Linked DNA regions of Homo sapiens. The gene in region 1 interacts genetically with each later gene. Each region holds a gene or a part of one and is shown on either strand. Other genes may lie near its edges. The genes, in order: GBF1, YBX1, CNOT9, HNRNPU, PRKAA1, SEC31A and ATP2B1.

Region 1 (3,500 bases):
GTCTTGCTCAAAGTCCTTGCCTCCATTCACACCTTTCAGATTTTTGCGAAACTCCTAGAGACAGGCCAGTAAGTTTTTTCCCCTTGTGTCAACACTGAAGCCCCACCTAAGGAACTCCTGGGTTTTCAGTAAATAGGACTTAGGAAAAGGTAAGCGAAAAAACCCACTTCCCCACCCCAGTCCCTTTTCTAGGTTGGCCAGCCCTTCCTGATTCCCTTGGACAGAACCCCATCCATCATGCCCACTGGAAATCCTATGTCCTTCCTGCTACCTCCCAAGCTGTGCTGGGTCTTCTTTGCCTTGACTGGGACCCAAGCTTACCTCCAGGGTCATGGGTGCATTCTGTTTACGAACATTGTGGTTGTGCTGGTCAGTATTAAGCATGATGACAGCATAGGCCAGGGAAAAGCAGGCATCGCTATTGGCAAATGGGGAGCCATTACAATTCTGAAAAAGCAAAGATCCCGCCTGTGTCAATGCCCTTCTCTGGCCAATTAAACCCTCACTACCAACCCACTGGTCAGTGCTAGTACAGAGGAGAGGTACCATCCAGAAAGTGGCCAGTCTCTTGCCAACTCCTTAACAGAAGCTGATCTCTTTGTGGAAAGGTCACTAATTTTGCTCTCTGACTTTTTAAGAGACAGCAGGCTGGGTGCGGTGGTTCACGCTTGTAATCCCAGCACTCAGGGAGGCCGAGGTGGGCGGATCACCCGAGATCAGGAGTTCGAGACCAGCCTGACCAACATGGCAAAACCCATCTCTACTAAAAATACAAAAATTAGCCAGGCTTGGTGGCAGGTGCCTGAAATCCCAGCTACTCAGGAGGCTAAGGCAGGAGAATTGCTTGAACCCGGGGGGTGGAGGTTGCAGTGTGCTGAGACTGCGCTACTGCACTCCAGCCTGGGTGACAGAGCGAGACTCTGTCTCAAAAAAAAAAAAAAAAAAAAGAGACAGCAGCTGGATTCTTCAGCCCTCAGTCAAACTGACCTTGGATCCTGGGCTCAGCCCCTGACACTCAAACTCACCATCCAACGCTCTGTGAATGCCTCCAGCAACCTCTGGATGACTGGTGCTTCCCCAGGCAAACGGAAGGCTTCCAGGTAGAGGCGGAGGGCTTCGTCCAGTCGCAGACCCTGAAAACTGAAGGTGCTATAGGGAAAGAAAGGAAGAAGAGGCTGAAAATGTGTAAGCTGCACATGTCAGGCTCTTTTAGTCACTGTCCTCCTAACCTACTCTTACTGGAAGAGAGGAGGCTGAGGTCTCTAGTAAAGGGGCAGTATCTCCTGTTCATCCCTAACACAACCCCTAGCCTTAATACTTTTCACATCCACGGACTCTTGCCTAGAACCCTCACCCCCTGGAACCCTGCTCTACCCCTTTGGAATGGACTCCATGCAGAATGGAGGGGGCTCCCCAAACTATCTCGTTGGAGTCCCTTTCAGGTCCAATAGATATAAATGATGGGTAGAGGAAGAACATTGGCTAGGGTCTCCAGAAGAAATTTATAGAGACCGCTTTGAGGTAGGGATGTTCTGTCCCTTTAAACTGATCACTAACCATGTCCCACCTTTTTTTTTTTTGAGCCAAGGTCTCACTCTATCACAGCTCTATCACAGTGGCATGATCTCACTCTATCTCACTCTATCTCACTCTATCACAGTGGCATGATCACAGCTCACTGCAGCCTCGAACTCCCAGACTCAAGTGATCTTCCTGCCTCAGCCTCCTGAACAGCTGGGACTACAGGCACATGCCACCATGCCCAGCTAATTTTTGTATTTTTTGTAGAGACAGGGTTTCACCATGTTGCCCAGGCTGGTCTTGAACTCCTGAGCTCGAGTGATCTGCCTGCCTCAGCCTCCCAAAGTGTCAGGATTACAGGCATGAGCCACCATACCTGGCTATATCCCACATTTCTTACAGCTTCCTCACCTCACAAAGCTCTCCAACAGGTCAATGTTTTTGCGGTCACTCACAAACTCTCCAATCATCTTCTTGTCCAGCCGAGGGTTCTCTCGGAGCCACTGAGCAACCTCTGTGTTGTCCATTGGGATGGTGAGGAGGCCTTTCTCTTGCAGAAACTGAATCCCCTTCTTTGGTTTCTGATTGAACTGCTCTGTGCCAGTGATTAGCAGCTGCATGAGAAAAACTAGAGGTATAGAAGCTACTTTGCCTCTAAATTAGACAAGGCCAGCCTGGAGTCCACCATAGCCCACCCACAGTTGGTCAGCTAAAAAGCTCCTAGGATGTGGTTCTTAGTGATTACAGAACTAAGGCTAGATCATAATGGCCTTAGCTTCCCCCATCTTCATGTCTAATTGAATTGGCTTACGAGCTCTTTTTTACTCCTTTCCTGAGTGCTCAAGATACATAAAACAGTTCCTCTTCTCTAACTTAGGATTGGGGGAAAAGTAGAAGAAAGAAACTAGGTAATTCTTCTCTCCAGTTTTATATCCATCCCTGACATTTGTTGATAGCCAGCCTCTTGTTTTTAGCCTAGCTTAGCTTCTTTGGTTGCCTAGCTTAATGCCCTGGGTTTGAAAGACAAAGTGGACTAACTGTGGAGGCAACTCATATTTCTGTATGTCCAGTCACGGCCAGGTACTCAAGGGCACACATGAACCAAAGTCATTTAAGCTGGCAATAAGAGAAAGAAAGGGTTAGGTTTTTTTTTTCTTTTTCCGAGATGGAGTTTCACTCTGTTGCCCAGGCTGGAGTGCAGTGGCGTGATCTCAGCTCACTGCAACCTCTGCCTCCCAGGTTCAACTGATTCTCCTGCCTCAGTCTCCCGAGTAGCTGGGATTACAGGCATGCACCACCATGCCCAGCTAATTTTTGTATTTTTAGTAGAGACGGGGTTTCATCGTGTTAGCCAGGCTGGTCTCAAACTCCTGACCTCAGGTGATCTGCCCACCTCGATCTCCCAAAGTGCTGGGATTACAGGCGTGAGCCACTGCGCCCGGCCAGAAAGGGTTAGGTTTTCTTTGTGTTAAGAAACCCAAAGTACAGGCCAGACATGGTGGCTCACGACTGTAATCCCAGCACTTTGGGAGGCCAAGGTGGGCAGATCACGAGGTCAGGAGATCAAGACCACCCTGGCTAACACGGTGAAACCCCGTCTCTACTAAAAATACAAAAAATTAGCCAGGCATGGTGGCACACGCCTGTAGTCCCAGCTACTTGGGAGCCTGAGGCAGAAGAATTGCTTGAACCCGGTAGGTGGAGGTTGCAGTGAGCTGAGATCATGCCACTGCACTCCAGCCTAGGCAACAGAGAGAGACTCCGTCTGAAAAAAAAAAAAAAAAAAAAAAAAAGAAATCCAAAGTACAAACAGTTATTTGAACCTTACTATTTGAACCTTACTAAAGCACCAGAATGAATATCAATTTCCCTTTATTGCCAATCATCTTGCAAGAGCTGGAGATGACAGTAACCTTCAATGACCCACAAGACACCAACTCCCAAGGCTCCTGTCACTGCCACTAGTGACACTTGGCTCT
Region 2 (3,500 bases), on another chromosome or scaffold:
CCTTAAGTCGCTTTTACAGTTTACCTGTTCTGTTTTTTTAATTATCCTGTTCCCATCAATTAAAAATGTTCTTATAATAATCCAAGCTATAATTTACAGGTCAGATTTAAAGTTAATTTTATGTGGATCCTTTGATGCATATGTTGCCCCCAGTTCAGCAAGAAGCTAACAGTCAGTAAGCCAGTTTGTCCAGTTCATTGTAACCTTTGTTCCCTTTGTCATTAAACGCTAGAGCTACTACTGAGCTTTTTCTCACTCTGACCTGACGGAGTAAAGAGGGTGAGGCAGGCCACTGCAGGCCTGGAAATCCGTTTCCTTCTCCAGTGGTGATTCTTGCTCCTCGTGTTATCACCTTAATCCCAATATCCAGGCTAAAAAGTGAGATTATTCTCTACCCCCTCGCTTCTGACATCCAGTCATCCACAAAGTTTCTCATTTTGCCTCAAAAAGAGATCTCAAATGTCTTTTTATACATGGCTCCGTGGTCTAAACCTTCATCAGTCCTTGTCTGGACTTGTGGAGTAGCTTTTATAACTGGGCTTTTCTTACATTCAAACATACCTTATCACCCAAAGGTCACAGTTCCCATTAGGTTTCACTCTTTGCGTTATACATTCTGTTGGTGGGGAGGGGGGTTCTCATTTTTATGATCTCAAGGAAAGTTGGTAGTTGGGAGATGCAGGATAAGGTGAGAATGTAACTACTACTTCTGTTGGTAACCATGCTCTAGAGGTAAGAGGAGGGTGTGCTAGAACAGTTAATGTTTAATAGGATAAGGAGGGGCAGAATATATTTTGCTAGTCATTGCTACCCTCTTAATTATGGCTCAGTAGGTCACACTTTAATTTCTTAGACTTTTTTTTTTTTTTGCCTATCTTACGGGTAATGAGGCTACAACTGTTTGCAACTGCTGAAGTCTTGAAAGCAGAGAGCATGGTGGCTTGTGTTTTTTGATTTTTGCCAAATTTCCTGGTACCTAATTGGCAGCCAGAGAGTCTCTGGGAAAATTAATCTTTGACAACATGAGATTTATTTCATTTTCTAACTTGTTCAACTTGGTTCTGTCTTGCAGGAATGACACCAAGGAAGATGTATTTGTACACCAGGTGAGTGCTTGTGTAGATATTTGCACTTCTGATTCAAGGATTGTAAGAAGAAAAGGTTAGATATGTTCTCAGCTTTTGTTCCTTATAAAAGGTTAAGTCCAACCACCAGTTTATTTACTTACGACAGGAGTAGTAGCATGCTTAAAAATGTATACGTGGAAATGTGTTAGAGTTGACTTAATTATCCTAGACATTTCAAATTGGAATTTTGTCAACAGCTGTGGCTTTCTCAAATGTTGAGTCAAACTCACTGCATTAAATATTTATACCTAATTTCAGATGAACAGATTATTCCATGATTCTAAAGTTGAACAAATAATGTTGCTATAAATACACAGAAACTTTGGCAAGAAGTTTTCAAAGGCTTTTAGGTGTACCTGTAGGGACAAATCTCCATAATCAAGGGTAAATAAGACAGACCTGCAAAACATAGTAATTGAAGTGAGTACTTGAAAAGTAGCATAAAGAGCCTTCTGCTTACTTTAAATCACTTTGAATGGGTATTGGGTTTTTTTTTTTTTTAAACCTTTGGAGAGTTTTGGCTGGCTTGGAAAATGAAAAAATTTCACTAGTTTAAGGTTAAGTGGGGGGAAGTGTGACAAGGTTGGCAGCTGCTCATTAAATAATTTTTAGATTGGCTTCCAGTGATTTGGGAAGAGAAAACTGTTAACATAGGATGAGTACTGATGAGTACTGCATAGTGAACTTTCTCCCTAAGTATCATTTAGGGAAAATGTTTGCACATTCAGGAATTAAGATTATTACTAATGTAAACCACTGCCAAGTGTATGTTAATACTTCAAATTTAGATATGCTGTAGGCTACATTGAATGTACTTATCCTCACAGATACGAAATGAGTAGGAAAAAATATGTTTGTGCTATCAGTTTTCTCACTAAGGCTTTTGAAATATTGTCAACTTGTATTAAAATTAGAGACCATAACTACTTTTTTGTACTATAATCCAGAAATCAAAAGACCTAAAAGTTAATATCCATACTCACATTTAATTAGATACTAGCTTTTATGGCAGCATGTTTCATAGGAAGGGCTGTCATAGGTTGGTGCTTTGTAGCTCACTGAAGTGTCCTACACAGTATTTGATGACAAGGAGGAAGCTATATCAATTTCTAGTACACCCAAACCCAATCAGGTAGTTCAGGGTCAAATGTAATTATGGAATCATTTAAATTCTAAATGTAAATAAATACAGGACTACTTCAGACAAAATGTTGTTTTAAAGTAGATGTTTTATAAAATTGGTATTCTTGTTTGGAAGAACACAGCTCAACTGTTCCTTACTCCCCTTCTGCATGTTCAAAAGAATGTGTAGACTTAGGAACAAGAGACAGCAAAGTTTCTCGGTCTTGTTGCCTGTTGGCAACCCTTAAGGGTTGGGGTTGGGGCAGGGGTGGAGATGTTGATAAAAATAAAGAGTTGGGATTTTAATTATCCATAATTCTGCTATCCCCTATGACTGCAGGTAATTGATAGTTGGCTATATCTGAAAGGTATGAAAACTATGTGACAGTTTAGATGACAGATGAGATCAATTATTTGACTCAACTCACCCAGTTGTACTGATTCACAAGGTGCCACCAATATGCTTTCATTTTTTTGGAAGTGGTTTCAACATGTAGTTGTTTCTTGGGACTTTGGCTGCTCAGGTCTTAGTGGTGTATCAGGGAGACTGCAGTTCTGGGCAGCTTCACTTAATTGGCCTCAGATTCGTTGATTGTCCTGTCTCCTCTGCAATGGAAATGCATGAGTGATCCTGTAATGGATATAGCTGAGATTTGGAGTGAACATGGGATTTGGAGACCCAATACCTGGGTTTAGAAAGTCTCCTTACTAACTGTGTGACCTTGGGCAAGTCACCTAACTTTAAAGCCTGTTACATTATCTGTGTAATGGGATTAACAATACTTTCACATGTCCTGTCTCATAATGAGATTGAATAGATAGTAAGTGAAAGAATGTTGCAAAAAAATTTCATAGAAACGTGAGATGTTACTCTTCCTCCCTTCTCTTAACAGTCTGGAGAAAGTAGAAGCAACAAGTCTCTAATACAAGATTTATTGAATTCTGGGGAGGTGATAACTAACAATTCCATGCAGTCAGATCATATAAAGAATGACATAGTTAATACACATGAATTGCATTTCCACTGATGTATTATCAGATTGGAAGGGATTTTGGTTGACATTTGTAATTGAGTTTGATACGGTAACACAGGGGCAAAGTTGGTTTGGTCAGCTTTGAAGCATGCAAAACCAAACTCGCCTGTCATCTAAACTGACGCAGTGTGGGGCCACCTTCTCCTATTAAGTGCAGTCCTCAGGGGATAGATGGATATCCTCATTTGTTAAAAGTTATATATAATGCTTTTGCAAA
Region 3 (3,500 bases), on another chromosome or scaffold:
ACAAACATATTTGATGACTATAGAGAATTATAAAATATTCAAATTTGGGGGGAATATTGTGATTCTTTAGCATAATAATGAAAGCATGCCCTATTAAGTATGTATTTCCTACATGAGTAAGTAATGAATGGTTCTCAAAGGGATGTAGTTAGAGAATATACTGAAGAATCATTAAGAGGGAGAGCTTTTCCAAATTACAGGTTTTCTGCTCAGTTGAGGGGGGATGTCAGAATCACTGGGGAGGGACCAGTATTGGGAAGGCATAATTTTTTTTCCTCTCAAAAACTATTATATGCATATGGTTTTTTAAAAAAAGTTTATGCAAAAGGTTTTAGTGTAAACAATGAAAAGTAAGTCTCCCTGTAAATCCCCAACCTTAGAGGTAACTACAGTTAACAGTTCTTTATGTGTCCTTCTAGAAATGTTATATGTAAATGTGTAAGAATGTATATGTATTTTTTATTTTTATATGTGTGTATATTAATGGAAACATTTTATATGCTCTTCTGTAACCCTTTTATTGTTTTTACTTAGTATCAATATACAGTATATAGAGAGCTGCTTCTTTTTTTAAAGGACTACATAGTATCACATTATAAAGCTGCACCAATATTTAACCAGTCTCTTAGTGAGAGATACTTGTTTGTTTTCTGCATTTTTGTTTTTGAGACGGAGTCTCACACTGTCACCCAGGCTGGAGTGCAGTGGCGCGATCTCGGCTCACTGCAACCTCCGCCTCCTGGGTTCACACCATTCTCCTGCCTCAGCCTCCAGAGTAGCTGGGACTACAGGCGCCTGCCACCACGCCCAGCTAATTTTTTGTATTTTTAGTAGAGACACCAGTTTCACCGTGTTAGCCAGGATGGTCTCAATCTCCTGACTTCATGATCCACCTGCCTTGGCCTCCCAAAGTGCTGGGATTACAGGCATGAGCCACCACGCCTGGCCCAGTTTTCTGCATTTATTTATTTATTTATTTATTTGTTTGTTTGTTTATTGAGACAGAGTCTCACTCTGTCGCCCAAGCTGGAGTGCAATGGTGCAATCTCAGCTCACTATAACTTCCACCTCCCATGCTCAAGCGATTCTAGTGCCTCAGCCTCCTGAGTAGCTGGGACTACAGGCATGCACCACCACACCTGGCTTTTTTTTTTTTTTTTTGCTCTGTCGCCCAGGCTGGAGTGCAGTGGCGCTATCTCGGGTCACTGCAACCTCCACCTCCCAAGTTCAAGCAATTCTCCTGTCTCAGCCTCCTGAGTAGCTGGGATTACAGGCGCCCATCACCACACCCAGCTAAATTTTGTATTTTTAGTAGAGACGGGGTTTCGCCATGTTGGCCAGGCTGGTCTCAAACTCCTGACCTCAAGTGACCCACCCAACATGGCCTCCCACAGCGCTGGGATTACAGGGGTGTGCCACCGCGCCCGGCCACTTTTCTGCTTTTAAAACAGTGCAACAGTAAACATCCTGGTATGTCTTTAGCACAGCCCAATTATACCTACAGGATAAATTCCTAAACATGGAATTATCAAAGGGTATGTGTGCATTTTAGATTTTCATCAGTAACTACCAAAGAGATTGAATAGTTGACATCAAATGTATGTATTTAGAAACGCTCCCCTGGTATTCATGAAAAATATATTTCCTCTAAAACTCTGTTGCAGGGTAAGACTTGGTTTGACTCTAATAAACTGATATTTACTTTCTTGTCTTCATCTGAAGCCTGTGCCTACTACACTGGCACAAGTGGATAGAGAAAAGATCTATCAGTGGATCAATGAGCTGTCCAGTCCTGAGACTAGGGAAAATGCTTTGCTGGAGCTAAGTAAGAAGCGAGAATCTGTTCCTGACCTTGCACCCATGCTGTGGCATTCATTTGGTACTATTGCAGCACTTTTACAGGTGGGTTCATGTCCATGATTGGCAGTTCAGTTCTTTTCATTACACTTGTATATTTCTTTACCTTTGCCCAAATGATTTGAAGACTTTAGGAGGATGATTCTTTAAAAAACTGCATTTGTAAGAATCTGTTTTAGAAAGGTCTGAGGTATTTGTTAAAATGCAGATTCTTGGATCCTTACCCAAGAGATTCAATTTAGTCAGTCTGAGGTGGGCCCTATAATCTATATTTTAATAAGCACTTTCACCTCCCCCAGGTGATTGTGATGCAAGTGATCTAAGAACTACGCTTTGACGAACACCGCTTTAGGAGTACTGTAAGATAAATCTACATGACAGGGGGAGGAAGGTGGAAAGTAGAGTATAAGGACCACAAGGTACAATATATTCTATGGAAAAGAAATGGGTTTTTGGGTTTTTTTGTTTGTTTTTCTTTTTTTTTTTTTTTTGAGACGGAATCTCGCTCTGTCGCCCAGACTAGAGTGCAATGGTGCAATCCCGGCTCACTGCAACCTCTGCCTCCCGGGTTGAAGTGGTTCTCCTGCCTCAGCCTCCTGAGTAGCTGGGATTATAGGCCTGCATCACCATGCCTGGCTTTTTTTTTTTTAATTTTTAGTAGATACGGAGTTTCACCATGTTGGTCAGGCTGATCTTGAACTCCTGACCTCGTGATCCACCCACCTTGGCCTCCCAAAATGTTGAGATTACAGGCATGAGCCACCATGCCTGGCCTGGAAAGGAAATGTTGAAGGTATAACAGCTGTAGTATTAAAGGTGGGTACACTTGTACATTAAAGAATAGATAACTGAAGTTCAGTTCAAACCAGAATGGTCACTGGTGGCTAATTAACTGATATGGTACAATAACAATACCAAAATACCTAGGTAGTGGCATGATCATCCATTAAAGTATTGCCCCAAATTCCTAACAATTAGATTAACTTTTCAACTCTTAAGTAAATTCACATTCCATCTCTATTGCATTTAGCCAAGAAACTGATCTTTGTTATGGGAACGTTTTTCTATGTAAAAGTTTTACAAATAATGTAAATGGAAAATTGTAGCCAGGTGCAGTGGGTCATGCTTGTAATCCCAGCAGTTTGGCAGACTGAGTTAGGAGGATTGCTTGAGCCCAGGAGTTTGAGACCAACCTGGGCAACATGGCGAAACACCATTTCTACAAAAAATACAAAAATTAGCCAGGCTTGGTGGTACACTCCTGTAATCCCAGCTACTTGGGAAGCTGAAGTAGGAGGATCAATTGAGCCCAGGAGGTGGAGGCTGCAGTGAGCCATGATCATGCCACTGCACTCTGCCTGGATGACAGAGTGAGACCCTGTCTCAAAAAAAAAGAAAAAAAATGTAAATGGAATTGTATTGAGTAAATCATTACTTTTTGACAGATAGTGCATATATTCACTGCTGTTTATACATATCCCCACCCATTGATTCATGTCCTTACCATGTTACTACCTAACCAAATTCAAACTTCTTTATGAGTCACCGTGGTTGACTTAACACTTTCTGGCCAGTGATCTCATCACTGTAACTTAAAGCAGGATGCTAGCAAAATTATAAAAATTTGAGTATCCCTCAACTGA
Region 4 (3,500 bases), on another chromosome or scaffold:
CCAAAGGGGCCTGAAGAGAAGAAAGATTGTGAAGTAAGGGATTTTTTTTTTTTTAACTGTGGCATTTGAATATTGCTTGCCTGGCACAAAATGACATTTAGAAGAACTAGATGATTAGTCTGTTTCATTTACTTTGTGCTGTGCATATTGCTCTTAAGTAATTGTTTCCCCCTTATGTTGACTGTTAATCTTTCCATAAACAAATTTTTGTCCGTTAGTGTAAGGGCTATGAAAACTTAGATATTTAAATTGGCCTTAACAATATTTAAAGAATTATTAGGTGGTGTCTACTGACAGTGAAATGACATTTCTTTTCTTTTCACTAGGTTGTGATGATGATTGGCTTGCCAGGAGCTGGAAAAACTACCTGGGTTACTAAACATGCAGCAGAAAATCCAGGGAAATATAACATTCTTGGCACAAATACTATTATGGATAAGATGATGGTAAGTAAAATGTTTAGGGCCTGATCTCAGTGTTTAAAATAGACTGGGAGAGGCTGGGCATGGTGGTTCACGCCTGTAATCTCAGCATTTTGAGAGGCTGAGGTGGATGGATCACCTGAGGTCAGGAGTTTGAGACCCACCTGGCCAACATGGCGAAGCCCCGTTCCTACTAAAAATTTAAAAATTAGCTGGGTGTGGTAGTGGGTTCCTGTAATCCCAGCTGCTCGGGAGGTTGAGGCAGGGACAATTACTTGAACCTGGGAGGCAGAGGTTGCAGTGAGTTGAGATCGTGCCATTGTACTCCAGTCTGGGCGACAGAGCAACACTCCGTCTCAGAAAAAAAAAAAAAAGAAAAGAAAAATTATAGACCGGGAGGTATTCTAGGTAAACTTTTTGTCTTTGTCTCTATCCATTTTGTTAGTATCTTAAAGAGATGGGAGGAAAGGCAAGATTAAGTTGGTTCTTTCAACTCTGAGGGTAAACTGCCTTCCACTGGCTAGGCTTCTGTTTTTTTCCGTAGTGTTTTTGAGCTCTTAACATCTAGCAGCTAAAAAGAATTGAGTAAGTGTAAGGTCTTGTTACATAGTTTAAGTGACCCTGTTTTTGTAGCAATAATGGACAAAGGTAATATTTAAATTATAAAATGTTGCCTGCTTTACATATAGATATGAGTTGAATTTTAAAAAGCATAACTTATTAAAATTCACAAGTTCAAGGGGAAATTTTAACTTTTGAATATAGGTGGCAGGTTTTAAGAAGCAAATGGCAGATACTGGAAAACTGAACACACTGTTGCAGAGAGCCCCCCAGTGTCTTGGGAAATTTATTGAGATTGCTGCCCGAAAGAAGCGAAATTTTATTCTGGATCAGGTACGCTGTAGCTTTGAAATTGAAAAATATTAACTGATAATTTAGATAGATTGGTGTAGAATTAATGTTTAGGGTTGTAAACATAAATTTCTTTTTTTAAAGACAAATGTGTCTGCTGCTGCCCAGAGGAGAAAAATGTGCCTGTTTGCAGGCTTCCAGCGAAAAGCTGTTGTAGTTTGCCCAAAAGATGAAGACTATAAGCAAAGAACACAGAAGAAAGCAGAAGTAGAGGGGAAAGACCTACCAGAACATGCGGTCCTCAAAATGAAAGGCATGGAATTTTAATTCTGTTACTGTGTGAAATCTTCTTTTTAAAAGAATGTTTTTCCTACATATTCTGCTTGTGTAACTATGTTAAATCTATTAGGACTTAGGCCTCCTGAAAGTTAACATTTTTTCCAGCAATACTGCTTCAGGAATTAAAATTGCAGTTGTTACATATGCATATATGTTTGGTCTGTTTTTATTTTTAGGAAAATATGTTACTAAACCTCAAGAATTGTCAGCTTTAGGATTGTGAGGATTCGTGGTGGGTTTCTAAATTAATAATATGACTTTGTTTCCTGCAGGAAACTTTACCCTCCCAGAGGTAGCTGAGTGCTTTGATGAAATAACCTATGTTGAACTTCAGAAGGAAGAAGCCCAAAAACTCTTGGAGCAATATAAGGAAGAAAGCAAAAAGGCTCTTCCACCAGAAAAGAAACAGAACACTGGCTCAAAGAAAAGCAATAAAAATAAGAGTGGCAAGAACCAGTTTAACAGAGGTGGTGGCCATAGAGGACGTGGAGGATTCAATATGCGTGGTGGAAATTTCAGAGGAGGAGGCAAGTTAATTTTGAGTGTTCTGTATTTAGTTCAGGATCGAAACAAGTGATAATTTTATAGTTTGGATGTAGCTGAAGTTTCTTCCTCATTAATGGTATACTGTCACAGTAACTAAAGTATTCATGTGATTTGATATTAAATACACCTAGGTTATGTTAATGGTTAGAATTAAACATTTCTTTTGTCTTTAAACAATTATTTTTGGAGAAAAAGGAACAATCTAGAGGAATCCTAAGTCTTCTGTATAAGTAGGGTACAATATACAATGAAACTAAAACAGCTCTTGTCTTTTAGCCCCTGGGAATCGTGGCGGATATAATAGGAGGGGCAACATGCCACAGAGAGGTGGTGGCGGTGGAGGAAGTGGTGGAATCGGCTATCCATACCCTCGTGCCCCTGTTTTTCCTGGCCGTGGTAGTTACTCAAACAGAGGGAACTACAACAGAGGTGGAATGCCCAACAGAGGGAACTACAACCAGGTAATGATTCAAGATCCCTGGAAGCATGATTGATAACTGTAGCTTAGTCTGGAAAGGTGTGAGCTTTATGTTGGGGTGTCTTAGTAATCCGTAAGGAACATGATAGGCATTGACATAAGGAAAATTGAACTAGTAATGGTGAAATGAGTCTACTTACTTTTGAGTTTTTTCAGGTGTACTAAACAAGTCAGATGCATTTCTCATAATGAATAAAAAATTAAAACATAAGAAACCAGCAGAGGGTATCCAGAATTTGTGTATTGCTTGCTACCTAAGATTAGGGGCTAGCAACCTGTCCATTTCTGCTCCTCTCTCTCACCCCCACAAACCTAACAAGCAATTGGGCTCAGAGCTCTTAGAGAGTATTTCCTTTTTGTAGAACTTCAGAGGACGAGGAAACAATCGTGGCTACAAAAATCAATCTCAGGGCTACAACCAGTGGCAGCAGGGTGTAAGTAATTTCTTATGTGCTTTATGTACATTAATTGTATTTTGAGTTCCTAAGATTTATCAGTCTTGAAAAAGATCTTGTTCAGGGATTGAAGTGTTTATAAGTGTTAATAGGGTAAAGTGTGAATCGTCTTGCAGTAGTAGCCATAATCTACCTTTTGAAGGCAAAATAGGTTGAAGATTGCTATAAGTTAAATTTTTTTAATAAAGTAATATTATTTAATATATACAGTTCTTTTACTGCTAGCTTTAATTGTGTAAACTAACAAAGTCATGATGTTTCGTTTTGTAATGTGTATTGATAATTATGGGATATTAAAACTAAATCTGGTTTGGTAGAAATCAGAGGTATGACAGGTATAAATTTGTTTCCAGCAAATTACTCTGAATTAGATTCATTGTCATTTCCTAAAAACAGTTTGAGTGGCTT
Region 5 (3,500 bases), on another chromosome or scaffold:
TTACTTCTGAGGACAGATGAAGGATAAGGGAATCTGGGAGGAGTCATGCAGGGCTTGAGTTGTATTTGTAATGTTTTATTGCTTAAGCTGATGGTGGCTCATGGGTATTTGGAATGCCCTTGGTGTGCTTGAAATGTTTGTTTGCTTTCTTAAATTACGATCTATAGCTTTTAAAGCCCACCCTTCCCCAGGATTAAGCTATTTCCTTAACACGTTTTTATTCTTTCAATTTTAAAGTGGGAATGAAATGGTTAGGTGTCTAGAATATCTTTAGTAGATATTTCTATCTTTGCTGCTTCTCTGTCCTATTAAAATCCTCTGTTTCAAAGTATGATCTTGTTTCCCTTCAGGATTATATATCTAATTAGAAGAGCATTTGTTACAATGTTATGCAGTTAGACAAAGTTCCCTTTAGATAGCAATAGCATGGTTGTTAGCTAATATTTAGTTGACTAATCTGCTATTCTTGTGAGGGGGACATTGTGAATGCTGGTAATATTTGCTCTGAGTAATGTGCAAGTCTTCCGTGGCCAAAATATCTGTCTTCCGTTTCATTTAAAAGCAAAACCTTAGCACTATTCTAAAAACTGACAGTCTGAAGAATAAAGTTTGAATTTTGAAAAAGGGGGGAATCCCTTAGTAGTGCATATGCCTGACAGAGTCCATTTACTACATTCATTGATTGACTATGGAACAGCATTTAGTTTGGCTACAACTGAGTTTACTCACTGGGGAGAATATTTAGCCTGGTTTTGAGAAAACAGTTTAGTTTCTGATACCATGCCAAGCCCTTTGTCCCTCTCACTGCACAGTGATGGTGGGGAGAGTGGATAGGTCAAAAGACTTGGGAGTCGGAAGACCTGTCCCAACTTGATCACAATAGCTTTACTTCCACAACTTACAGAATCTCTTAGAGCCTCAGTTTCTTTATCTGTAAAAGACAATACCTCCATCATAGGTTTATGCTCAAATGTGATAATGTGAGTGTCTCCTAAGCTATTAGATGCCATATTTTAAAAAGTATTATGCTACTGAAGGCCGGGTGTGGTGGCTCACGCCTGTAATCCCAGCACTTTTGGGAGGCTAAGGCGGGCAGATCACGAGCTCAAGATATTGAGACCATCCTGGCCAACATGGTGAAACCCCATCTCTACTAAAAATACAAAAATCAGCTGGGTGTGGTGGCATGCGCCTGTTGTCCCAGCTACTCGGGAGGCTGAGGCAGGAGAATTGCTTGAACCCCGGAGGCAGAGGTTGCAGTGAGCCGAGATTGTGCCACTGCACTCCAGCCTGGCGACAGAGCGAGGCTCCATCTCAACAACAACAACAACAACAAAAAAAAAAAAAAAGAAAGAGTTGACTCCTGATAGACTATGAAGGCTGGGATACAAATTCAAAAAGCGGAAAACCACACGAGCTGGAACACTATAGGCTGGGAGCAAAAAGCCCTATCCTGCTAAATAACTCCCACTGCTGTCACTGTGTGAGGGTATAAGGAGCAGTTGATACTCATAAGTTAACATTTGTTTGGTTCCCAGTCTTCATGTACATGTGTTCCATTTAAGAAGTCATGATCATGTGTAGTACAATTAGAAAACCTGTTTTCAAAAAATATTACTTCTGTTAACTTGTTAATTTTAATGGTGAATATCATAGTTTAGAAAATCCACCCTCCTTTTCTTGTCAGGGACTGAGTGTGTGGTCCTGCTCCTGTTATGTATGGAGGCAAAGGGAAAGGGCTCCGGCCCCCTCAAAATCATGTCTTTGGTGCCAGCCGGTTCTGTTCTCAGTCACCTGGATACTGAACTTTCCTGAGCAGGGCAGAACTGAGATCCAGTGGGCTTCTCCCCAGGATGCTTACGCTTTTTCATTTGATTTCAGGTCTCCTCTTTCGCTTCCTATTGCAACCAATGAAGGCCATTCCTACCATAAGTAAATAAAAAAGAAAATCTATCTTTAATAAATAACAATTGTATATATTTATGGGGCACAATGTGATGTTTTGATACATGTATACATTCTGCACTGATCAAATCAGGCCAAGTAGTATATCCATCTCCTCAAATATTTATCATTTCTTTGTGGTGAGAACATTTAAAGTTCCCTTTTTTAACTCTTTTGAAAAATTAATATATTTACTGTAATCATGATGCTATGCAATACAACACCAGGATCCTGTTCCTCCTGACTGTAATTTTATGTAGCCATTGACCAATATCTTCCTTTTCCCCTCCAGCCCCACTTACCCCAGCTACTGGTAATCACCATTCTACTCTCTACTTCTGTGAGTTTGACTTTTTTAGATTCCAAATATAAGTGAGTCTCAGACACCTCTGACATACTGATTTCAATTCCTTTGGATATATACTCAGTAATGGGATTGCTGGATCATATAGTAATTCTATTTTTAGTTTTGTGAGGAACCTCTACACTGTTTTACAAAATGGCTGTATTTATAGTTTCACCAGCAGTGTATAAGTGTTCCATTTCTCTGTGACCTTGCTAACACTTATCTTTCACCTTTTTGATAATAGCCAGTCTAACAGGTGTGAGGTGATACCTTATTGTGGCTTTAATTTGCATTTCTCTTATGATTAGAGATGTTCAGCATTCTTTCATCTATCTGTTGGCCATTTGTTTGTCTTTTTTTTTATTTTTATTTTTGAGACAGTGTCTCACTCTGTTGCCCAGGCTGGAGTGCAGTGGCATGATCATGGCTCACTGCAGCCTTGACCTCCTGGGCTCAAGCGATCCTCCCACCTCTGCCTCCCAAGTAGCTGGGACTACAGGCATACACCACCACGCCTGGCTAATTTATGTATGTTTTATAGAGACAAGGTCTCACTGTGTTGCTTAGACTGGTCTTGTATTCTTGGGCTCAAGTGATCCACCCGCGTCGGCCTCCCAAAGTGCTGAGATTACAGGCATGAGCCACCATGCCTGGCCGGATATTAGCTATATATCTGATGCATGATTTGTAAATACGTTTTCTCAGTCTTTGGGTTGTCTCTTCACTCTATTTGTTTTTGCTTGTTTGTTTGTTTTTTTGAGATGCAGTCTCCCTCTGTCACCCAGGCTGGAGTGCAATGGCGTGATCTTGGCTCACTGCAGCGTCCGCCTCCCGGGTTCAAGCGATTCTTTTGCCTCAGCCTCATGAGTAGCTGGGACTACAGGTGTGCACCACTACGCTCAGCTAATTTTGTATTTTTAGTAGAGATAGGGCTTCACCATGTTGGTCAGGCTGGTCTCGAACTCCTGACCTTGTGATCCGCCTGCCTCGGCCTGCCAAAGTGTTGGGATTACGCGTCTGGCCTGTTTGTTTGTTTTTTGCTGTTCAGAAGCTTTTTAGTTTGATGTCATCCCATTTGTTTATTATTGCTTTTGTTGCCTGTGCATTAGGGGATCATATACAAGAAATGATTGCCCAAACCTGTGTCATGGAGCTTCTCGCCTAAGTTTTCTTCTAGTAGATTTGTAATTTCAGGTCCTAAATTTAATCC
Region 6 (3,500 bases), on another chromosome or scaffold:
TCATCCTCTCCTCATCCCAGTCCCCTCCACCCTCCACCCTTGATAGATGATTGATCTCTGTTCTAATAATCTGTTCAAGTTTCTTTTTTTTTTTTTTTTTTTTTTGAGACGGAGTCTTGCACTGTCGCCTGGGCCTGGAGTGCAGTGGCGTGATCTCGGCTCACTGCAACCTCCACCTCCTGGGTTCAAGCAATTCTCCTGCCTCAGCCTTCCGACTAGCTGGGATTACAGGCGCCTGCCACTACGCCCAGCAAATTTTTTGTATTTTTAGTAGAGACAGGGTTTCACCATGTTGACCAGGCTGGTCTCAAACTCCTGACCTCATGATTTGCCTGCCTTGGTCTCCCAAAGTGCTGGGATTACAGGCGTGAGCCACCACGCCCGGCCATAATCTGTTCAAGTTTCTTAGTTGTAGTTGCCTCCATTTCTTTATAAAATGAAGCCATTCAACATTTTAAGTATAAGGTTTAGTGCAATGAGATAGGGCAAGTTCTTAGGTTAAAAGTTAATGTTCAAATATAACATCTATTTTTTCTTTCCTGCAGCAAACCAAGAGGAAGCTAGATGATGCCAGCAAACGTTTGGAGTTTCTGTATGATAAACTTAGGGAACAGACAGTAAGTTTTGGAGGAAAAGGATTTATGATAATCATTTATTCCTAGTTGCTAGTAAAACAGTTGTCTTATCAGCACTCCCATTTAGTATGCATGGGGGCAAAATTGTCATGACATTTAGAGAATGGGCATGGCTGTGTTGAATCATAAATTCCACTCACTGGGGTTAAGGGGATACGGGTGTGTGTGTGTGTGTTTGTGTGGGTGTGTTGAGAGAGACATTTTAACCCTCTCATAACAAGAGTATAAATACAAACTGGCCTGTGTTGGCCATAAGGTAGCTGACCTTCTGCTGTTCCTTTTATATGGCCCAGTTACAAGAAATCAAAGAGTATGCAGATACTCTGTTTTCCAGGGACTAAATCTATAATCTTTATCATAGTCTAAGACTCTTGACCCTTTTCTTTTAGGATAGCCATTATACAAAAGCAAAGCCAAATGTAGCCACAAGATGAATAGGGTAATGTGCTGTAACTATGAAGATAGCCAGGAGTAAGAAGTCAGTTCACTACGTTTGTTCTCTTGTCCCCACCTCACCATTCTTTTCTAAAATTGTCTTGTTTTATTAATGAAAGCACTAGGAAAGGAGAAGAAAAAAAGAAGTGGGACTTTCTTTTTATTTTTTCCATTTCAGCATTCCTCTAACCCATTCCCCACACTCAGTTCCATCAGATGAAAATAACCATTTCTCTCATGAGAACCAAACTAAAGAAAGTTGATATAACAGTGGAAGTAGTGTGGTCCTTGGACTGATCCAAAATAAAGTCTTCTCGGTGGGCACAGTGGGATATGCCTGTAATCCCAGCTACTGAGGAGGCTGATGCGGGAGGATCACTGGAGCCCAGGAGTTTGAGACCAGCCTGGGCAACATAGCAAGACCGCATTTCCAAAAAAAAAAAAAAAAAACAGAAGATACAATTAGCGTATACATCTAGATGAGTATATATTAAAACATTTTTTAAAAATGAGATCAAAATAGGCCAGGCATGGTGGCTCACGCCTGTAATCCCAGCACTTTGGGAGGCTGAGGCGGGCAGATCACCTGAGGTCAGGAGTTTGAGACCAGCCTGGCCAACATGGCAAAACCCCGTCTCTACTAAAAATACAAAAATTAGCTGGGCATGGTGGCACACGGCTGTAGTCCTAGCTACTCAGGAGGCTGAGGCAGGAGAATCGCTTGAACCCGGGAGGCGGAGGTTGCAGTGAGTCGAGATCGCACCACTGTACTCCAGCCTGGGTGACAGAGTGAGACTCCATCTCAAAAAAAAAAAATCCAAATAAAGTCTTCTGTAAAGTATGGACACCTATGCCAAGTAATGACATAGTAAAAAACTACAGGTTTTATAGTTTTAAGAGATGACAGGATTATAAAAAGCAGGTAAGAATTAGTAAATTTGGGCCCTTCCTTTGAGATATTATGATTAAGAATCTTTAATCTCCTTTTTGTGCATAGGAGAATTTTTTAAAGGTCTGAAGCTCTCTTAAGTGGAGAGAGAAATTAGCATTTCAGTTTGGAGAGGAAATCGGGCTGCTTTTCTGTAAGAAAATACCTGGCTTATACATGTATAATTCATAAATAACTTATTTATGTAAATCATTTTGTTGTGGTTGTACTTGATAACTGTTGCTTGGTTCAAGAAACTTTCTAGAAATGCTAAATGGTTTATATATTTTTATAATGTTTGTTTCAAATTCCACTTAAATATCTGGGTTTAATGTTTATGGAGGATCTCATGGGAAGTTATCCCTTAATTTAATTCTTTCTCTTGGTTCACTTTTGTTTCAGCTTTCACCAACAATCACCAGTGGTTTACACAACATTGCAAGGAGCATTGAAACTCGAAACTACTCAGAAGGATTGACCATGCATACCCACATAGTTAGCACCAGCAACTTCAGTGAGACCTCTGCTTTCATGCCAGTTCTCAAAGTTGTTCTCACCCAGGCCAATAAGCTGGGTGTCTAAAAGGACAGCTTCTCTTCCACTCAATATTGCCATTTTTCCAAAGAAACATGTTAAAAAAAAAAATTATAAGACATGGACTAGTCCTCATTAGCATGTTTGCATAGCAACCAGTCAAGAGCATTTACACTATTTCTGCTGATATACTCACCTTAGAACTGCTCAGAACCCTGGTGCTTTATTTTTGTTTTAATCTTTTGTTGCCAGTGATGATTTTCCTATTCTGCAAATAGTGTATTTCCTGGATTACACATAGTATGGTTTCCTGAAGTATTCTGATAAATGTGTTTTTTAAAACCTCAATATACTTTTTAGAAAAGGAGCATCTGGTTATGCATAAAGCAGAGCTAAAACTAAATTTCTTTCATGTCCTCCCTACTTCCTCAGTGTCAATCAGATTAAAGTGTGTAATCCTATTTTATGTGTGTATAGTCTTTTTTGAAACAGCTGCTTAAAATTTAGTTTATTTTTTGTGTCTTAGGATTCCTGAGTAAATAACTACATCTACAAACTGCTACATGGGTTTTAGCAGATATTAATAAAAATGGGATCACTGGCTTTAACTATATAGGAAAAGACTGGACATTTTTGTTCTGTAGAATGCATTGAGCTTTTTTCTATTTGTAAATGTTTCAATATTCTGTTTGAGTTTTAAGACTAAATTGTGTCCATTTTATAGCTAGAAATTTTTTCACCTATTTTGTTTAAATTACCTATAGCTGTGCCAGGCATGGTGGCTCACGCTTGTAATCCCAGCACTTTGAGAGGCCGAAGCAGGCAGAGGTCGGGAGTTCGAGACCAGACTGGCCAACATGGAGAAACCCTGTCTCTACTAAAAGTACAGAATTAGCCGGGCGTGGTGGCGCATGCCTATAATCCCAGCTACTTGGGTGGCTGAGGCAGGAGAATTGCTTGAACCCGGG
Region 7 (3,145 bases), on another chromosome or scaffold:
GTTTTATTATTTATGAAGTGGTTAGAAAAAAAAAATCTCTAATATTGTTCAACAAATTCAGATAGGAAAAATCTTCTCAGAATTGAAGTTTTGCTAAGAAGGGATTTAATCTTTCTTTGCCTGCCACCGGTGTATGTGTGTGATTGTGTGTGCACATATACTTGTTGCCCTCACCTTTACACTCTGCCCCTCTTAGAGCTTCACTAACTCTCAAATCTCTAACTTAAGTTTACACTTTTCTTCTGAGCTCTAGATATTTTCCAAATTTAACATGTTTAAAAAGTACATTTATTTCCCCCCGATTCTTCACTGCTCACTTTTATACCGACTGATTACAAAGAAAAACAGATGGAAAACACACACATACACAGAAAGCTTAACTGTTGTTCTATCTTCAGTAGCAGCAGCACCAGCAACCTTATCAAATAAGCAACATCTTCAGGGTTGTCTTGAACAGTTCTCATCACCCATCAAGTTTGCTGGCTGATCCTCTAATTTGTATTCTCCTCCGTGCCTACGGGCTGCTGATACCAACAAATTTTTTTTTAGAAAGTTATCTTTTTGCATTTTAAGCTTTACAGTTTGTTATTAGGACAGTCAGGATACTTGCTGAATGTTCACATGTATAAAATGTGAATTTTAAGACTTCACAATAAAACACTGAATGAATTACTATAACGTTATATTTAGCAAACATTGTTTACATTCCATATGTAGAACACTTTACATCTTAGTAAAGGGGAAGAGGAACAAGAGCAATAAAAGAAGTTGAAAAATATTTGCTGCTATTCATCAGTCAAATTAAGGAACTGAAGTACAAGCAATCAAATAGAATGGAATTATAAAAGATGGTAAAGCTGCAAGACATTAATAGAATAGATGCTTGCTGCTCCAAGTGTGGATCATGGACCAGCAGCTTTAGCATCACCTTGGAGGTTGTTAGAAATGCAGGACTTTAGGCCCCTGCTGAATCAGAATCTGCATTTTAACAAGATCCCCAACTAATTTGTATGCACATTAAAGTTCGAGAAGCCCTGGCCTCGATACTTGTGACCTAACATTGTTTTAAGTTTGTAGTGTGCTAACGAATTTAATCTCCCACAACAACCCCGTAAGGCAAGTACCATTGCTATTTCCCATTTTATAGTTGAAGAAACCTGTTTGACCGAGGTTCCTCAGGTAGTAAGTGGCAGAGCTGGAATTTACACCCAGACATTTTGCTTTTGTATTTCTCAGTTGACTATGCTGTACTCTCTATATAAAGGGCTAAGTGAATATGGACTAAAAGCAGCTTACAAATAGGGCTTGGCAAATAAGGAAAGACAACTTGAAGGTGAGATGTGGGTGCATGGCCCTAAACTCTACATTACATTTTTTTAAACACATTCACATGTTCATTTGAAGAAATGTATTATTCATTATTGCTGTCTAAAGAGATGAATTTGGTGACCGCATCTTTTTTCTAGAATGTCAAAGTGTTATTTATTTCTCTTAACAATGAGTAAATGATGTCTTTATTACTAAACAGGATTTATTAGAATCAAAGCAAAAGCAAACACTGTATTTGAATTGATACATAGTAAATGCTCAACTAGTTGGATTTTGTCCTTTTTTTTCTAAATCTGAATGACGCTTGAGTTAATAGCACTTAATGTCAGTGTGTGCACTGATGTTTTTAAGTTTGATTGCCCACTAATCTTTTTCATTTATACAGCAGACTGAGAGGAAGATGAATTGTTGAGCTATCTGCTTAGGGGTGAAAATACTAGAAAACTTTTAACACTTTGTGTCTTCTTGGGAAATTTTTCACAGAAGAATCCCAGAGGATTTGTTTTTGTTTTTGATCTATTCTTTCCAGATAACTGTAGTAATTGATTTAAGTTTTAATCTGTTACAGAGAAAAACACTAAAACTTTATAGACAAATGATAGACAAATGGCATATACTCAAATATTTATAGCTGTTTAATGGCATTTTATAGACATTTATTTGGGTTTTGTTCTTATTTTTGTTTTTAATTAAGGGAGTAGTGGGGTAGATGTGAGTTCATTGTGGCATTCAGCTTATATTTGCTTGGCTTTTTCATGGTCGGTGACACCCTAATTCCTAGCATGATAAATAGTAACCCTTTGTGCTTGATTTTGTTTAACTTATTTGAGTTGTTTTCAAAATACATTCTTTTTAATTTAAAAAATCAGCTAAGCTTGTGTATGGTTAAGTTTTTGTTTTGTTTTGTGTTTGATTTGTTCTTTTAGGGAAAAAATCCTATAAAATGGCTATTAAATTTTTAGCCAATGACAATGAGATTTTCTTAATATTACTTTGAATTCTTTACCTCTTAATTCTTAGAGTATGTGGTTTTGTTGTTCTGTAGTGTCTTACTAAAATATTCATTTTTTTACAGTGTATTGCAAGTTCCACTGCATTACATGCAAATATGATTCACTCATACCTAGCTGTTTGTGGATTCAAACTCATAAATGAACCATTTTTAAGTTGTTAATAGTGTACTGACATATTTCTGTATTTTCTGATATTTACAGATTCGAGTGGTGAATGCATTTCGTAGTTCTTTATATGAAGGGTTAGAAAAACCGGAATCAAGAAGTTCGATTCACAACTTTATGACACATCCTGAGTTTAGGATAGAAGATTCAGAGCCTCATATCCCCCTTATTGATGACACTGATGCCGAAGATGATGCTCCTACAAAACGTAACTCCAGTCCTCCACCCTCTCCCAACAAAAATAACAATGCTGTTGACAGTGGAATTCACCTTACAATAGAAATGAACAAGTCTGCTACCTCTTCATCCCCAGGAAGCCCACTACATAGTTTGGAAACATCACTCTGATTGTAAGCTGAATGTTAACACACTAGCTGCATTGTAAAGAAACAAATTGAAACTGGGTCTTTTCACATATTGTGATGGACAAGCTAGTATTCTTGTCTTTGGACTTCAACAGAAGACACACTTGTACGAATGTAGATTTATTTTTTTAAAAAAAAAAAAGCAAAGCTTTCTGCCAGACTGAGGGTGCTTTTTGGGGGGTGGGAGAAATGAACTGACAGATAAACAGTAACTCAGCGTAAGTGACCTGTGGATCATCAGTAGTACCCAAGCATGGTCCTGAACAGTGTATT

What was found.
Region 2: changes in GBF1 (region 1) and YBX1 together harm fitness more than expected from each alone (negative genetic interaction), as found in Homo sapiens cells (one study listed by BioGRID).
Region 3: changes in GBF1 (region 1) and CNOT9 together harm fitness more than expected from each alone (negative genetic interaction), as found in Homo sapiens cells (one study listed by BioGRID).
Region 4: changes in GBF1 (region 1) and HNRNPU together harm fitness less than expected from each alone (positive genetic interaction), as found in Homo sapiens cells (one study listed by BioGRID).
Region 5: changes in GBF1 (region 1) and PRKAA1 together harm fitness more than expected from each alone (negative genetic interaction), as found in Homo sapiens cells (one study listed by BioGRID).
Region 6: changes in GBF1 (region 1) and SEC31A together harm fitness less than expected from each alone (positive genetic interaction), as found in Homo sapiens cells (one study listed by BioGRID).
Region 7: changes in GBF1 (region 1) and ATP2B1 together harm fitness more than expected from each alone (negative genetic interaction), as found in Homo sapiens cells (one study listed by BioGRID).

The regions. Positions count from the first base shown.
Region 1 is NC_000010.11:102,364,032-102,367,531, reverse strand, and holds part of GBF1 (Golgi-specific brefeldin A-resistance guanine nucleotide exchange factor 1), read right to left. Parts: intron 2,136-3,500; coding exon 1,933-2,135; intron 1,150-1,932; coding exon 1,026-1,149; intron 448-1,025; coding exon 322-447; intron 55-321; coding exon 1-54. UniProt on the Homo sapiens protein: Guanine-nucleotide exchange factor (GEF) for members of the Arf family of small GTPases involved in trafficking in the early secretory pathway; its GEF activity initiates the coating of nascent vesicles via the localized generation of activated ARFs through replacement of GDP with GTP.
Region 2 is NC_000001.11:42,692,418-42,695,917, forward strand, and holds part of YBX1 (Y-box-binding protein 1), read left to right. Parts: intron 1-1,072; coding exon 1,073-1,106; intron 1,107-3,500. UniProt on the Homo sapiens protein: DNA- and RNA-binding protein involved in various processes, such as translational repression, RNA stabilization, mRNA splicing, DNA repair and transcription regulation.
Region 3 is NC_000002.12:218,578,839-218,582,338, forward strand, and holds part of CNOT9 (CCR4-NOT transcription complex subunit 9), read left to right. Parts: intron 1-1,722; coding exon 1,723-1,902; intron 1,903-2,171; exon of another isoform or gene 2,172-2,231; coding exon of another isoform or gene 2,232-2,276; intron 2,277-3,500. UniProt on the Homo sapiens protein: Component of the CCR4-NOT complex which is one of the major cellular mRNA deadenylases and is linked to various cellular processes including bulk mRNA degradation, miRNA-mediated repression, translational repression during translational initiation and general transcription regulation.
Region 4 is NC_000001.11:244,854,544-244,858,043, reverse strand, and holds part of HNRNPU (heterogeneous nuclear ribonucleoprotein U), read left to right. Parts: coding exon 1-33; intron 34-326; coding exon 327-446; intron 447-1,187; coding exon 1,188-1,316; intron 1,317-1,418; coding exon 1,419-1,587; intron 1,588-1,885; coding exon 1,886-2,140; intron 2,141-2,435; coding exon 2,436-2,620; intron 2,621-2,999; coding exon 3,000-3,071; intron 3,072-3,500. UniProt on the Homo sapiens protein: DNA- and RNA-binding protein involved in several cellular processes such as nuclear chromatin organization, telomere-length regulation, transcription, mRNA alternative splicing and stability, Xist-mediated transcriptional silencing and mitotic cell progression.
Region 5 is NC_000005.10:40,788,375-40,791,874, reverse strand, and holds part of PRKAA1 (5'-AMP-activated protein kinase catalytic subunit alpha-1), read left to right. Parts: intron 1-1,670; exon of another isoform or gene 1,671-1,804; intron 1,805-1,841; exon of another isoform or gene 1,842-1,923; intron 1,924-3,500. UniProt on the Homo sapiens protein: Catalytic subunit of AMP-activated protein kinase (AMPK), an energy sensor protein kinase that plays a key role in regulating cellular energy metabolism.
Region 6 is NC_000004.12:82,818,154-82,821,653, reverse strand, and holds the end of SEC31A (protein transport protein Sec31A), read left to right. Parts: intron 1-545; coding exon 546-617; intron 618-2,400; coding exon 2,401-2,580; 3' UTR 2,581-3,145; downstream 3,146-3,500. UniProt on the Homo sapiens protein: Component of the coat protein complex II (COPII) which promotes the formation of transport vesicles from the endoplasmic reticulum (ER).
Region 7 is NC_000012.12:89,590,694-89,593,838, reverse strand, and holds part of ATP2B1 (plasma membrane calcium-transporting ATPase 1), read left to right. Parts: intron 1-2,543; coding exon 2,544-2,855; 3' UTR 2,856-3,145. UniProt on the Homo sapiens protein: Catalyzes the hydrolysis of ATP coupled with the transport of calcium from the cytoplasm to the extracellular space thereby maintaining intracellular calcium homeostasis.